2 linked regions of the Homo sapiens genome follow. The protein of the gene in region 1 purifies or fractionates together with the protein of each later gene. This does not show direct contact. Each region holds a gene or a part of one and is shown on either strand. Other genes may lie near its edges.

Region 1 (8,140 bases):
CACTGATTCCTAATGGCCCGTACTTCTGGTCTAGGATCCAACACCACCAGACTTCTGTGTTTTATTGTTGTTGATTGTTTGTTTAAAGGATCTAAAATCTGACCTGTTTTAATATTGTGACATGGTTCAAAGTTCCACTACTGCATATTTTCCTAGCTTTGGTCACCACTAACTTTTTGGTAAAAACAATACACAAGCCCCTGCTTTAAAAAATATATATAAAAAGAAAACAAAACAAAAAAAGCTTGCCCAAATGGGTTTGCAATTCTGTAAGGTCTGTCCTTGATCTGGTCTTATCATGTCATGGGAATGCAATCTATTAATGATAAACCTATTTTATCAAGGCATAGCTAACTTTTAAGCATTCTTGTTTGAAATTACTCCTCTACTTGCAATCACAGCTGCCTGGTGACAAATGTTTTACAGTTAAATATTAATGCCCCACATAAATATAGTTAAAAAAACAAGCTGAAGTTAAATAATATTAAATAATACATTTTATGTGGCTAAAAAAAGGTGCATTGATGATTCACCAATTGAAGCACTATACAAAAACACCTCCCATTCTCAGAAGAGCCAGCTGGAGAGAGGCATTGCTTGGTTAATTGTAGTTTTACTTATATCTTTCCACCACTTAGTAAATGAGAAACTTTTTTTTTTCAAATTCTTTCACAAAAGCTTTGGGAAGCCTAGCTTTGTTGACTATAAATATGGTACTTCACATTTCCAAATAGCTTCATAGTCAGCATTTCACAATATGCTATGCGGTCACTCAGTTTTTCACAGTTTTGAAAGTGAGAAAACTGACATAGAGGTTAGATGATTAGTTTTAGTTAATTGGGAATCCCAAATCTTATGTGCCAACTCAGGGATCTTAAAAAAAATTCAAGTGCAAATGTCAGAATATAACTATCCATTTGACCTTCATGAAGCTGATCATGTACTAAGGCAACATTTTCATTTCCCTGGCAATCTTGGCACCTTCAACATAGTTTAATTGTTTACAACCTTTAGTGATAAAATTAAATTGGTGTTCTTTGTGTATCCTTTACGTATTTGGTGAATTTTCATTTATCCTTTCAAAGTCTTTTTCGACTCCTTTCACTCTTCAAAGCCTTGTCTGTTCCTCCCTCTTTGTCAGTTGACTGTGTTTTCTCAGCGTCCATCTCTGTACCTAGCCAGCTGCCCTGATAAGGCTGTGAGTAAGCTGAAGGCAGACCCTATCTCTCATTCATCCTGGCCCAGTGCCCAGCACAAACTAAGCACTCAATCAATTTAAAGTTTGTTGAACTAACTAGCTAGCTAACTGACTAAATAAATTAAGATTCAGGTGGTATAGAGAAATAAAGGATAAATTGGTAACTTCTAACAATGAACACCGAGTATTTATCAGGGTGTGGCAATATCATAAAAGGTGTAAGAAAGACACGGAGGTACCTTGGGTTATACCTTTCACCAGGACTAACCTGAAGCACTAGCGTGACAACTGTTGTGATACTGGGGATGATCTGAATATTCTTCCTCTCAGATTAAAGTGGATATTTTCTAACACAACAACATTTATTGGTAAAATATGACATTTTCCATAAAAAATTTAAAAGATGCTTAAGAAAGTTCTCTACAGTTTAGGACACATTTTGAGTATGAATAGAGTTACTCAAAATATCCTATCAATATACAGTGGGCTTCCATATTTCTTTCCCCTTTAATTATATGCCACTTCCATTTGTGTTTCATCAGTGAAAAAGTAATTTGGAGGCCTTCTCATTCATTATCCCGCAGCTGGAGTTTTCATTCGTTTGTACTGGGGGGGACCCTCGCCTTAACTGCACACACCTCCCTTTCCTCTGGGTCCCATCCTTGCCATCTGCCAGGGGCAAAGTTGAAGCAGCCCCTCCACACTACTGCTTAACCAGGTCTGACATCCTCATCCAATTCTACTGTCAGCGGCATTCTGCTCAGAGATCACTTTTGTTTTACCCCAAGCACAGGCAGTGACTGAATAAAAGGCAATGAAAGAAAGAAGAGTCCTGCCCAGAACCGCAGGTACGAGTCACAACAGGGCCCCGAGAGCAGCCTGTGGTAAGAAGTGTGGCTTCCAGGTACCCGCCTCCACACTCAGCCCAGCCTTATGTATGCAAGGAAAATCACACCCCAGGAAAGACCGACATTCTTTCTCCTGTTGAAACTCCAAGCCCAAACTGTTATTCTAAAGGAAGCGCATTGCCTTTCAAGGCCTTCCAGTTCTTCCTACTGCTTGGGAACTGATGCGCGTTCCTCCTCCTGACGCCGGCCTGGGATAAGAGGAGAGTAGGGGGCAGGTGGCGGAGAATATGCCCATGTTTCAGAAAGCCGGTCCACCCGGTGTGCCCCGTCTCACCAGATGTGCAGACAGCTGAGGGTGGCAAAGAGAATTCCCGCAATGAAGGCCAGGGGAATGGCCAGGAACACCGTCAGGAACTTGTACATTACGTATTTGCTGATTTCAAAGAGGGCATGGCTGCAGATCCACACTTTGTCAAAGGAGTGCGTAGTCACCGGCTCTGCGATCACATCCTCGAAGCCCAGCTGAGGAGACAGGACGCAGGGACCCCGAACTGTCAGCCAACCTGACGCCCCGGGAACCGGGAGCGCTTTGGGCGGGGGAAGCAGGAGGGAAGGACGTGCCAGGGCGTCCGCCTCTTCTCTTAGGGTCACGGTGGGCGCACAGGAACCTGGCTAAGAATTCCTGGCTACGCGGGCGGCCTGGTGACGGGTGGGACCGGGGAAGGGTGCGGGTCTCAGACCCTGCGGGGCCGACCCGGTAGCAATGGTGGGACGGGTTAGGGCGGGGCTGAGGGGCGCCCGCACCTCCCGGCCTCAGCGGGGACTTGGGCCCGCCCGCCCCGGGCTTCACCTTGAGATGCGAGTTGAGCCGGTGGGGATCCCGGTCCTGGTCCGAGTCCGCGAACTTCTCGGGGTCGGCGTACTCGAGGCCGCTGTGGTGGCTGTAGGAGTCGTCGTCCATGAAGAGCTGTACGTCCGCCTTCTCCGTCTCCAGCCCCATCGCAGCCTTGGTGCGCGGCCGCTGCAGCCCGGCTGGCGCGGTGCGGCTCCCGGTCCGCGCGGCCTCCCCTTCCCGTAGCGCCCGGCCCCGCCCCCCCTCGCCTCGCCTAGCCCTGCGAGGCCCGGGCGGCGGCCGCTTCCCGCTGTGGGCTCCAGCTCCCAGCCCGGCCGTCCCGAGCCCCGCCCCGGCGCCCCGCCGCCCCTCCCCGCCCACCTCCCCCGCCGGGGCGCAGGGAACCGTCCCCACGAGTCACAGCCCGGGCCCTGCAGTGGGCGGCGACGCCGGCAGCTGGGACGAGGAGGGCCTCCTGGTCACCCTTCTGGGGGCCCGTACTGTCATGCCTCAGAGCTGGCAAGTCGTCCCAGGGAAGACAACGGCCTTCCTGGAGGGAGGGAACCTTGTGGTTAGGCGCATGGGGTGCGAAGCAGGTATGTGCTCACCTCCGGCTGTGTTTGCCTTGCGTGCTGCGGCTCATGGTGCTGGTATTGAGCCTCTGGGAACCTCAGCTGCCTCGTTGGCAAAATGGGGGCTGTGGCATCTGTTTCAGGGGTGTCCGTGAGAATTAAATGTTAATTTCACATAAAATTCTAACACACATGGCCCATGGCCCGTAACACACAGTGATAAACTTCCAATCAACGTTGTTGCTGCTGTCGTGAGAGGTAAGGAGCCACAATGTACCTGAGTGCTAGGTACCTGAGTGCTAGGTGACCTGCAAGTGCATGTGGAGTTGGGTAGGCGAACGCCCTGGCCCTAGAGTTTGTGCCTTCAGATCTGAGGTGTGAGGGGAGATCTGATTTTTTTTTTTTTTTTTTTTTTACTTCCTAAACTACACCGTGTGTGTGTGTGTGTGTGTGTTTGTGTGTGTGTGGCAGAGTTTCGCTCTTGTTGCCCAGGCTGGAGTGCAATGGCACGATCTCGGCTCATCGCAACCTCTGCCTCCCGGGTTCAAGCGATTCTCCTGCCTCAGCCTCCCGAGTAGCTGGGATTACAGGCATGCACCACCACGCCTGGCTAATTTTGTATTTTTAGCAGAGACGGGGTTTCCCCATGTTGGTCAGGCTGGTTTCGAACTCCCAACCTCAGGTGATCCGCCCGCCTCGGCCTCCCAAAGTGCTGGGATTGCAGGCGTGAGCCACCGCGCCCGACCTCCACCTTTTAATTTTCTTGTGAACCAGACTGTCTTGAAAGATTCAGGAACTTCTAAGATGCAGTCACATCTGTGATTATCTTGCAGGCAGCACGGAAACAGAACCCTAACACAAAGCCACATTGCAATGGATGAATTAGCCTGCTGACCACTCACGCAAAGGTTTTCAGAAGGGAGGAGTTTGCATGTTCATAAAGGGCTTTAGGGTCTGGTAGACATATACGTGTGTTTGGGGAGGAAGGGCACTTAGTGAAAATTTGCCAAAAGCAAAACAATGAGAACTAGGCTTGAGGTGCAGGTTGCTCAGAGCTCAAAGTAGGCATGTAGTAGGTATTGCTGGATACAGTGTATTTGGAGCTTGTTGAACATATCAAATCCCCTTATGTGAACTGGATTTGAAGAATTGCTTCTTCCGAAAGAAAAAAGATCATTTTTGAAACAGTAAAAATTACAGAAATAAAAAAGAACAGGAACTGAATGAGAAAAATGTTTGGGGGTGGGAGGCAAAGTTCAATATTTCTAATAATTAAAAAGTTTCCCTGCTGCTACCTCAGTATATGAAGGGCAGTGTTGTAACCCTATAGGGTGTTACAGAGTTGACTCTCATGGCTATGGAGCCCCTCCTCTCCCAGACATCACCCTGCTTACCCATTCCCTTCTTTTTTACGTATCTTTCTCATTTTTATTTATGTTCAGTCAATTCCAAAGTGATGACTTAGACATTCTACTCATTGCATTTTCTCTGCTTCTCCACCTTGTCCATTCTCCTGATGAGAATTGGAACTCTTCTAGAATTGTTGCCCAACAACTGTTCATTAAAGTGAATAGAAGACATGAATCCTTATGGGAATCCATAATATCAACTGTGAGGAACAGAAAAAAAAAGGAGATAATTTACAGCCAAATACCATTTTATAATTATAATTCAAAATTATAATCCCAGATTTCAAGGTCTCACCCAAAGAAGAAAGTCACTGCCCTAGTACAAGAGTGGGCTTATGTAGTGGGTAAAAATCTGACATTAGCACTTCTTACCTTATAATTCTTGGTCCTCATTACATTTACATTTTCCATGGGATTATTAGGACATTTGAGAGTTATCACAAATAATTGATTTGTTTTCAGGAAGTGGCCAAGAGGACTCTTTAGACAACAGCTTCATTCGTAAAATGATAGGTATTTAAGAAAGGTGTCTCTAAATCCCATCTAAATGAGACCCATCTAGATTTGTTGTATGGAGCACAGAACTTGAAAGGAGAGGATTCATTTATTCATCCATTTGTAATTTTTTATTGAACAATCTTCTCTCCCTTGGGTCAGATCTGGTGAGGTTCTTATTTTGATGAAATTCTTATACATTTCAACATTTTAATACATAAGATTTTTTGAAGGAAGCTATAAAAATGATTTTGCTTATCCTATTGGCCAGTATTTAGATAAGGTTAGTGATATGGCTTGGATTTGTGTCCCTGCCCGAATCTCATGTGGAACTGTAATCCCCAGTGTTGGAGGTGGGGCTTGGTGGGAGGTAGAGATTAGATCATGGGGGCAGAGTTCTTAGGAATGGTTTAGCAACCACCCCCACTGCCACCCCTGCCCCCCGACCCCGCAGTTGGTACTGTATAGTGAGTGAGTTCTCATTAGATCTCGTCCTTCAAAAGTGTGTGGCACCTCCCCCTCACCTTTCTTTGGCTCCTTCTGTGGCCACGTGAGGTGATACTCCCTGTTTACCTTCCGCCATGATTGTAAGTTTCCTGAGGCCTCCCCAGAAGCTGAGCAGATGCCATCATAATGCTTCCTGTACAGCTAGTGGAACTGTGAGCCAACTAAACCTCTTTTCTTTATAGATTACCCAGTCTCAGGTATTTCTTTATAGCAGTGTGAGAACGGACTAATATAGTTAGCTACTGTTTTTCTCAAGAGGCTTAAACCAGAGTGATTCCCACAGCAATGGCATCTGTCCTTATGAACATAAAGGAAAATTTACCAGGAAAGGGAAAAGAAAGGGGGTGGGTGGGTGCTAAATGGCTGAACACATTCTAGTGTCTTCTGGATCACAGAATTACTCTCCAATAAGCACCTCCTACAGAGTTTACGTGCCCTGTAATCCAGAGAAATTAAAAAAATTATAATAAATTCCTACTGGTGCATTTATCTTCTGACTTATTATGTATCATAGCTTCTGATAAGAGGGCTGTTTTTTAGATGGTGTATTAATATATTTTAGAAATAACAGTCTGATAATAGATTAGAATTTGTGAGAAGGATAGTTTATAACCATTTTGTTACTCACTTCTTTCAGCACAGTGTCAATGGAAGAAGGTTATTTTTCTGGAGCATTGAAAATTGTATGGCAATGCTCTTATGAATAAAAATATCTAATTTTTTCCCTTCAGCTTTTTTTCCTTTTCAAATCACAAATGTGTCATATTTTTTTCCCTGTATAACGCACATGCAATTTTAGTCAGGGTCTGTTTTTCAAACTGCCTTTGAGCAAATTGGTATTAACGAAAATGCAGTAATAAATTCTTGATCTCACCATATGTTTTAATAATATTCAGAGTGTTCAGATTAGACCAGAGTTTCTCAATCTCAACCCTGTTGGCATTTTGGGCCAGATCATTTTTCCTTGAGAGACTGTCCAGTGCATTGTAGGATGTTTAGCAACATCCTTGGCATCTATCCACTAGATACCTATAACACTCCCAGTCATGACAACCAAAATGTTTCCAAATGTTGCCAAATGTCCTCTGGGGGGCAAAATCACCTTTCTCCTTCTTTCCCAGGCTGAGAACCACTGAATAAGACAATGTTGAAACAGTGCTGTGTGAATTAGAAAAATTAAGCTCCAGCTCTTCATTTACAAATCCATGCTTAGAAATCTCAGAGTTGTATCACCAATGTATTAGAAACTCCAGGGCTAGGCCTGGCACAGTGGCTTACACCTATAATCCCAGCTCTCTGGGTGGCTGAGGAGGGAGACATAGTGAGACCCAGTCTCTACAAAAAATAAAAAAAAAACTAGCCAGGTGTAGTGAGAGATGCCTGTAGTCCTAGCTACTACAAGAGGATTTCTTGAGCCCAGGAGTTTGAGATTGTAGACTGGAGTTTGAGGGCACAGAGCAAGGCCCATCTTAAAAAAAAAAATAGAAAGAAACTCCACGTCTTTTTGAAATTAAACTTAAGAATATTTGTTTGTCATGTAAAATGTTCAGAAGAACCCATTATCATTGACTAATTGCAATTTTTTCAATACAATGTTGGTATTAATTAATGAATACATATTAACCCCCACCCCCTTCCCCTAGAGATCAAAAGGAAGCAACTGCCAAGGCCTCAAGCTCTGTCTACCTTGCCTGGCCTCCTATACTTTCCTCACAAAGGTTAGGATTGTTTAAATGATTATATCTGGAAAAATACAGGCTTGGGACTTCTTGATCTGTAAGATTCTCTCTTAAAGCTATAAAATTCAGTGATTTTTGACAATCTTCAGCAAGTGAATAGCTTTTGCAATTTTAAGTAACCTTAACTGAGAAATCCATGGACTTGTTAGTGGGAGAGCCGGGCAGTTGCTTACCAGGTTCTTCAAGCATCCCCTCCTAGGCTTGCTTACTGTTAGCAAGGACAAAGCTTGAGAAATTTGGAAGGACCTGCTGTTTCTGGCATAAGCCACTCTCTCTGTGGCTTTACATAAACTATTGCTTGCATAACTCCTGTACCCTACTGCTTTATCAATGCATCTTTTAATTTCCTCCTTCTACCCTCCAACTCACACTCAACCACTATCTGCCCCCCACCTCCAACTGTCCCCCCACCCCCCCCAATACAGAGGACATTTCCTCCACAAAATGTTTAAAGGAATAGACAAAAATGTCTGCTATTAAAGTTAGTCAATAATCAACTTTGCGGAGTGGTGCCAGATGGTTGCATGGTATTTAATAAAA
Region 2 (7,000 bases), on another chromosome or scaffold:
AAAAAAGGGTGTCATCGTAACTTCCTGGGACTGTTGTAGGAATTACACAAGACAGTGTGCAGTAGATGCCTAGTGTGTTGGGAATACCCAGTAAATGGTCCTCATTTTTATACTTGCTATTATCACCATTACAAAACCTTTTCTGAACTTCCCAGCTAGAGTTAATGTTTTCAGAACACTTCGATCCTCTCTTCTAGCTCTTTCATCATTCTGCCTTGTGGTGTAGCAATATGTTGGCTTTTCTGTCAGCCTTGCTGGCCAGGGAGGTGCCAGAGGGTAGGGCCAGCAGGCCTTTTCATTGTTCTGTTTCTCCAGTGCCTGATGGAGGCATCATTCCCAGCTCGCCCTTGAAGAAAGCAGGGCTGCAGGCTGCTCTGGGGATTCCCAGTGGGGCCAGCTCACCCTCTGTCCTGTGGTTGCAGGTGCGGGAATGGAAGGAGCAGGGTAGCAAGACCTTCATGTGCACGGGGCGCCCTGGCTGGCTCACTGTCTCACTACGTGTCGGGAAGTACAAGAAGACACACAAAAACATCATGATCAACCTGATGGACATTCTGGAAGTGGACACCAAGAAACAGGTGAGAGTAGCACTTTTCCGGGCTCTGGGAGCAGGTGGGGCACTGCCCCTGGTGCAAGTGACTCATAGGGAGATGATTTTAGCCAAGGGCATTGCAGAGTGGACAGGACCAATGCCCACAGTCATAGAAGATACTCCCTGCCATTGCTGTCCTCAAGCCTCACAGCCACCAGGGGAGAGATGGGTCATAATAGGTCAGGGGAACCCTTTGCGTTTCCACAGGAAGTCAGGAATGGGGAATTCGTGAGCAAAAATGAGAGGCAAAAAGGAATCTACTTACCCCTTCCTGATAAGGAAGTGTGCTGGTAAAAAATGGGCTACAGAAGTGACTGAGAGACATGGGTCTTGTTACAAGCTTCCTGGAAACCCTCTTGTTTAATAGCCTTCGAAATGTACATACTTTTTGGCCCATCTAGTAATTTTACTTCTCGAAACCTGGCTTAAGGAAAAAGGAAATAGGCTTCAGTATAAAGATACCCAACACAGAGTGATTATATCACAGCTTTATTTCTAATTGACAACAACACAATATCCAATAATAGGGTAGTCATTAAATATGGTATGTCTACTTGATGGCATTTTGTTATTATTGTGAGACCTTGGCCAAGTTACTTAATCTCTCTGTGCCATTTTTTTTAATAGCTTTATTGACGTATTTAAAGTGTGGTAAAACTCTTACCACAATCAAGACAACAAACATACCCATCACACCCCAAAATCTCCTCATGCTCCTTGGTAATCCCTTCCTCTAGCCCCTAGCCCTGCCTCTTCCCCTACCCGCCCCCCACAGCCTTAGGCAAACAATGACCTTTCTGCCACTATAAATTAGTTTGATTCTAGAGTTTATATAAATGGAATCATACAGTACTTTTTGTTTGTCTAGCCTCTTTCACTCAACATCTTTATTTGGAGATTCATCCATGTTGAAAGGTGTGTCAATAGTTCATTCTCTTTCACTGCTGAGTCATATTCCCACACATATTGTGTGGATGTATCACAGCTGGTTTATCCATTCACCTACTGATGGACATTTTGGCTGGCTCCAGTTTGGGGCAATTACAAATAAAATGGAACATTTGTGAACAGTCTTTGTATGGGCACATGCCTTCCTTTCTCTTGGGCAAATATCTAGGAATGGAATGGCTAGATCATAAGGTGGGTGTACATTTAACTTTTTAAGGAAGTGCCAAATTTTTTTTCCAAGTGATTGTAGCATTTTACATTTCCACCAGCAGCGTGAGTGTTGTTCTTGTTCCACATTGTAATAGACTTGATATGGTTAGTCTTAATTTTAGCCATTCTAATAGATGTGTAGTAGTTTTTCATTGTAATTTTAATTCACATTTCCCTAGTGACTAATGATCTTTCCATGTGCATGTTTGCTATTTGTATATCTTCTTTGGTGAGGCCTGATCAAATCTTTTGCCAATTTAAAAAAATTCAGGTGGTTTTCTTATATATTCTGGAAACATCTTTTTTTTTTTTCTTTTAAACTTTTAAATTAAGTGGTACCTGTACAGGTTTGTTATATAGGTAAACGTGTGTCATGGGGTTTGTTGTACATATTATTTCATCACCCAGGTATTAAGCCTAGTACCTATTAGTTATTTTTCCTGATCCTCTCCCTTCTCCCTCCCTCCACCCTCTGATAGGACCCAGTGTCTGTTGTTCCCCTGTATGTGTCCATGTGTTCTCATCATTTAGCTCCCACTTATAAGTGAGAACATGCGGTATTTGGTTTCCTGTTCCTGCATTAGTTTGCTAAGGATAATGGCTTCCAGCTGCATCCATGTTCTTGCAAAGGAACATGGCTGCATAGTATTCCATGGTGTATACGTACCACATTTTCTTTATCCAGTCTACCACTGATGGGCATTTAAGTTGATTCCATGTCTTTGCTATTGTGAGTTGTGCTGCAGTAAACATACACATGCATGTGTCTTTATGATACAATGGTTTATATTCCTTTGGGTATATATACCCAGTAATGAGATTGCTGGGTCAAATGCTGCTTCTGTTTTTTGGTCTTTAAGGAATCACCACACTGTCTCCCACATGGTTGAACTAATTTACACTCCCACCAACAGTGTATAAATGTTCCTTTTTCTCTGCAACTTCACCAGCATCTGTTATTTTTTGACTTTTTAATAATAGCCATTCTGACTGTGTCAGATGGTATTTCATTGTGGTTTTGATTTGCATTTCTTTAATTATCAGTAATGTTGAGCTTTTTTTCATATGCTTCTTGGCCACATGCTTGTCTTTTGAAAAGTGTCTGTTCATGTCCTTTTTATATTCACTTTTTAATGGGGGTTGTTTTGTTCTTGTAAGTTTGTTTAAGTTCCTTATTGATGCTGGATATTAGACCCTGAAACAACATCCTTTATTAGATTCATGATTTGCAAATATTTTCTCACAGTCTGTGGCTTCTCTTTTGAAAACCAGAAGCTTTATTTAGTTTTTCTTTTTGAGACAGAGTTTCACTCTGTCGCCCTGGCTAGAGTGCAGTGGCACGATCTTGGTTCACTGCAGCCTCCGCCTCCCAGGTTCCGGTGATTCTCCTGCCTCAGCCTCCTGGGTAGCTGGGAGTACAGGCATGTGCCACCACACCCAGCTAATTTTTTGTATTTTTAGTAGAGACGGGGTTTCACCATGTTGGCCAGGCTGGTCTCAAACTCTTGACCTCAGGTGATCTGCCTGCCTTGGCCTCCCAAAGTGCTAGAATTACAGGCGTGAGCCACCACGCCTGGCCAAATCAGAAGTTTTAATTTTTCCCAATTTGTTAATTTCTTCTTTTATGCATTGTGGGGGTTTTGTTTGTTTGTTTGTTTGTTTGTTTATATTTTTGTTTTTTGAGACAGAGTCTAGCTCTGTGGCCCCGGCTGGAGTGCAGTGGTGCTATCTCAGTTCTCGGCAACCTCCATCTCCCGGTTTCAAGCAATTCTTGTGCCTCAGCCTCCCAAGTAGCTGGGATTACAGGTGCACACCACCACACCTGGTTAATTTTTGTATTTTTAATAGAGAGGGGGTTTCACCACATTGGTCAGGCTGGTTTCGAACTCCTGGCCTCAAATGATCCACCTACCTTGGCCTCCCAAAGTGCTGGGATTACAGGCGTGAGCCACCGCGCTTGGCCTACTTTGCATTTTGATATTTTATTTAGGAAATCTTTGCCTATCCAATGTCAGAAAGGCTTTCTCCTATATTTTATTGTAGAATTTTTATAGAAACCTTAAAGTGAAGCTCTCTGGGCCTGGAGTTTTCTTTGTAAGGAAGTTTTTAAGCACAAATTCAATTTCTTTAATAGGTACTGGGCTCTTCAGTTTATTTATTTCTTCTTGGGTTAGCTTTGGTAGTTTGTGTCTCAAAGGTATTTGTCCATTTCACTAAGTTGTATAATTTATTGACATAAAGTTGTTCACAATACTTCCTTTAGATATCTGTAGCTATGTCAGGTCTTTCGTTCTTGATACTGGTATTTTGTTTCTGTTCTCTTTTTTTCCTGAACAGTCTGGCTAAAGGCTATTGAATTTTATTGATCTTCTCAAAAGCTAGCTTTGATATCATTGATTTTTCCCTTTGTGTGTGTGTGTTGTTTTCAATTTCATTGATTTCTGCTTTGGTCTTTATTATTTCATTTCTTTTCTTACATTGGGTTTAATTTTACTCTTTTTCCAGTTTTTTAAGGTTAAAGTTTAAGTCATTGACTTAGACCTTTTTTTTCTAATATAAATGTTTAGTGCTATAAATTTTCCCCTAAGCACTGTTTTAGAGGCAGCTCACAAATTTCTATATGTTTTCTTTTTATTTCAGTTCAGAATACTTTGATTTCCCTTTTGATGTCTGCTTTGACCCATGGATTATTTAGAAGTATGTTGATTTTTTATCACTAGTTTTGAGCAATTTTATTATGATGTGCTTTGGTATAGTTTTATTCATAATTCTTGTTTGGAATTTGGCATAATTTTTCATCAAATCAGGAAATTTGGGGGCCATTATTTCTTCATCTGTTTTTCTGTCCCCTCCTTTTTCTCATCTAGTTTAGAGACAGCTAGGCCATTTCAAGTTGTTCTACAGCTCAGGTCATTGAGGCACTGTTCATTTAAAAGAAATTTTTTTCCTCTCTTTCATTTTGGTTGGTTTCTGTTGCTGTGTATTTAAGTTAACTAATCTTTTCTTCTGCGATTTCTAATTTGCTATTAGTGCCATCCATTGTATCTTTCATTTCAGACATTGTGGTTTTCATTTCCAGAAGTTTGATTTGGATTTTTTTTTTTTTTTTTTTTTTTTTTTTTTCAGATGGAGTCTTGCTCTGTCCTCCAGGTTGGACTGGGTGCAGTGGCGTGATTTCGGCTCACTGCAACCTCCACCTCCTGGGTTCCAGCGATTCTCCTGTCACAGCCTCCCGAGTAGCTGGGATTACAGATGCGCACCACCGCGCCTGGCTAATTTTTTTGTATTTTTAGTAGACGGAGTTTCGCCATGTTGGCTAGGCTGGTTTCAACTCCTGATCTCAGGTGATCTGCCTGGCTTGGCCTCCCAAAGCACTGGGATTACAGGTGTGAGGCATTGCACCTGGCCGGATCTTTTTAATATATTCTTAATGTCTCTAGTTAAATTTTCGAATATAGAGAATATAGTTATTATAAATGTTTTGATGTCCCTGTTCACTAATTCTAATATCTATGTCAGTTCTGGGTCTGTTTGATTGATTGATTTTTCTCATTATGGGTTGAATTTTTCTGCCTCTGTATGCCTGGTAAAATTCTATTGGATTCTGACATTGTGATACTCTGACATTTTACCTTTTGGGGAGCTGGGTATTTTTATGTTCCTATAAATTTTGAGTTTTGCTCTAGGAGGCAGCTAAGTTACTTGGAAATAGTTTGATCCCACTGGGTCTCAATTTTTTAGATGGGGCCAGGGAAGTATTTAATCTTGAGTTTATTATGAGGCAAGATCATTTTGAGTACTCTACACAGTGCCCTGTGAATCATCAAGTTTTCTAGTCTGGCTTGTGGGAACAGACACTATCTCCTGCCCTGTGTGAGTCCCTGGTACTATTACCTATTATCTTTTTTTTTTTTTTTTTTTTTTTTTTTTTGAGACAGAGTTTCACTCTTGTTGCCCAGGCTGGAGTACAGTGGTGCAATCTCGGGTCACTGCAACCTCCGCCTCCCGGATTCAAGTGATTCTCCTGCCTCAGCTTCCTGAGTAGCTGGGATTACAGGCACCCACCACCACGCCCAGCTAATTTTTTGTATTTTTTTTTTTTAGCAGAGGCGGGGTTTCATCATGTTGGCCAGGCTGGTCTCAAACTCCTGACCTCAGGTGGTCCACCTGCCTTGGCCTCCCAAAGTGCTGGGATTATAGGCATGAGCCACCATGCCTAGCCTATTACCTGTTGTCTTTTCTGGCAGTTTTTTCCCTGGCTTCAGCCTCAGGTAATAGCCTCATGTGTATTTACCGATTAGTACTCAGTTGAATTCCCAAGGACGCCTTTTGCATTTCTTCAGTTTTTTCTCTGTGCAACTCTCTCCTCTCCAGTACTCTGTCCTGCACACTGTATTCACCTTGGTCTTCTGGAACTCTCACCTCTTTTTTTTTTTTTTTGAGACAGAGTCTCGCCCTGTCATCCAGGCTGGAGTGCAGTGGTACAGTCTTGGCTCACTGCAACCTCCATGGGTTCAAGTGATTCTCTTGCCTCAGCCTCCTGAGTAAGTGGGATTACAGGCGCTTGCCACCACACCCAGCTAATTTTTTGTATTTTTAGCAGAGGGAGGTTTTTGCCATGTTGTCGGGCTGGTCTTGAACTCCTGACCTCAGGTGATCCACCCACCTCGGTCTCCCAAAGTGCTGAGATTACAGGCGTGAGCCACCATGCCCAGCCTCACCTCCATCTTTTTAACTCTTAGAAAGTCCACTGGACTCCACCACCTGGGTTTCCCTCCCTGCACTGCCTAACTCCAGGCAGTTAAATGGGCCATCCCTAGAGCTCACCTTTTTTTAAAATAATTTTTTATTTTTTTATTTTTAGGTCTTGCTATGTTGTCCTGGCTGGTCTCGAACCCCTGGCCTCAAGCAGTCCTCCCGCCTCAGAGCTCACCTTGTTTCCTGTCTCTGAGGGATCACTAACTTTAATTGTTTATGTCCACTGCATTGAAAACTCTTATTTCATATATTTTGTCAGGTTTTTTTTTCAGGCAGCAGGGTAAATGTGGTTCCTGTTATTCCACTTCGGCTAGAAGTAGAAGTCCAAGGGATGTATACATTAAAAATCATGTGTTCCAAGAATGTGTAATGATAAGAGATGATGGTCATAGTATAGTGTTAAATTTTAAAAAGGCAAAACAGAAAATGAGATATGCTTTTGGTTTGTGTGTGTTGTGTTTAAAACATACAAAATAGTGTGAAAGGAAAATC

Evidence for each region.
Region 2: the proteins of CAV2 (region 1) and DHCR24 purify together in Homo sapiens (affinity purification with mass spectrometry; 2 studies listed by BioGRID and IntAct, with this or other methods). This does not show direct contact.

What each region holds. Positions count from the first base shown.
Region 1 is NC_000007.14:116,494,688-116,502,827, reverse strand, and holds the start of CAV2 (caveolin-2), read right to left. Parts: upstream 3,091-8,140; 5' UTR 3,047-3,090; coding exon 2,897-3,046; intron 2,783-2,896; exon of another isoform or gene 2,569-2,782; coding exon 2,381-2,568; intron 1-2,380. UniProt on the Homo sapiens protein: May act as a scaffolding protein within caveolar membranes. Interacts directly with G-protein alpha subunits and can functionally regulate their activity.
Region 2 is NC_000001.11:54,877,196-54,884,195, reverse strand, and holds part of DHCR24 (delta(24)-sterol reductase precursor), read left to right. Parts: intron 1-422; coding exon 423-578; intron 579-7,000. UniProt on the Homo sapiens protein: Catalyzes the reduction of the delta-24 double bond of sterol intermediates during cholesterol biosynthesis.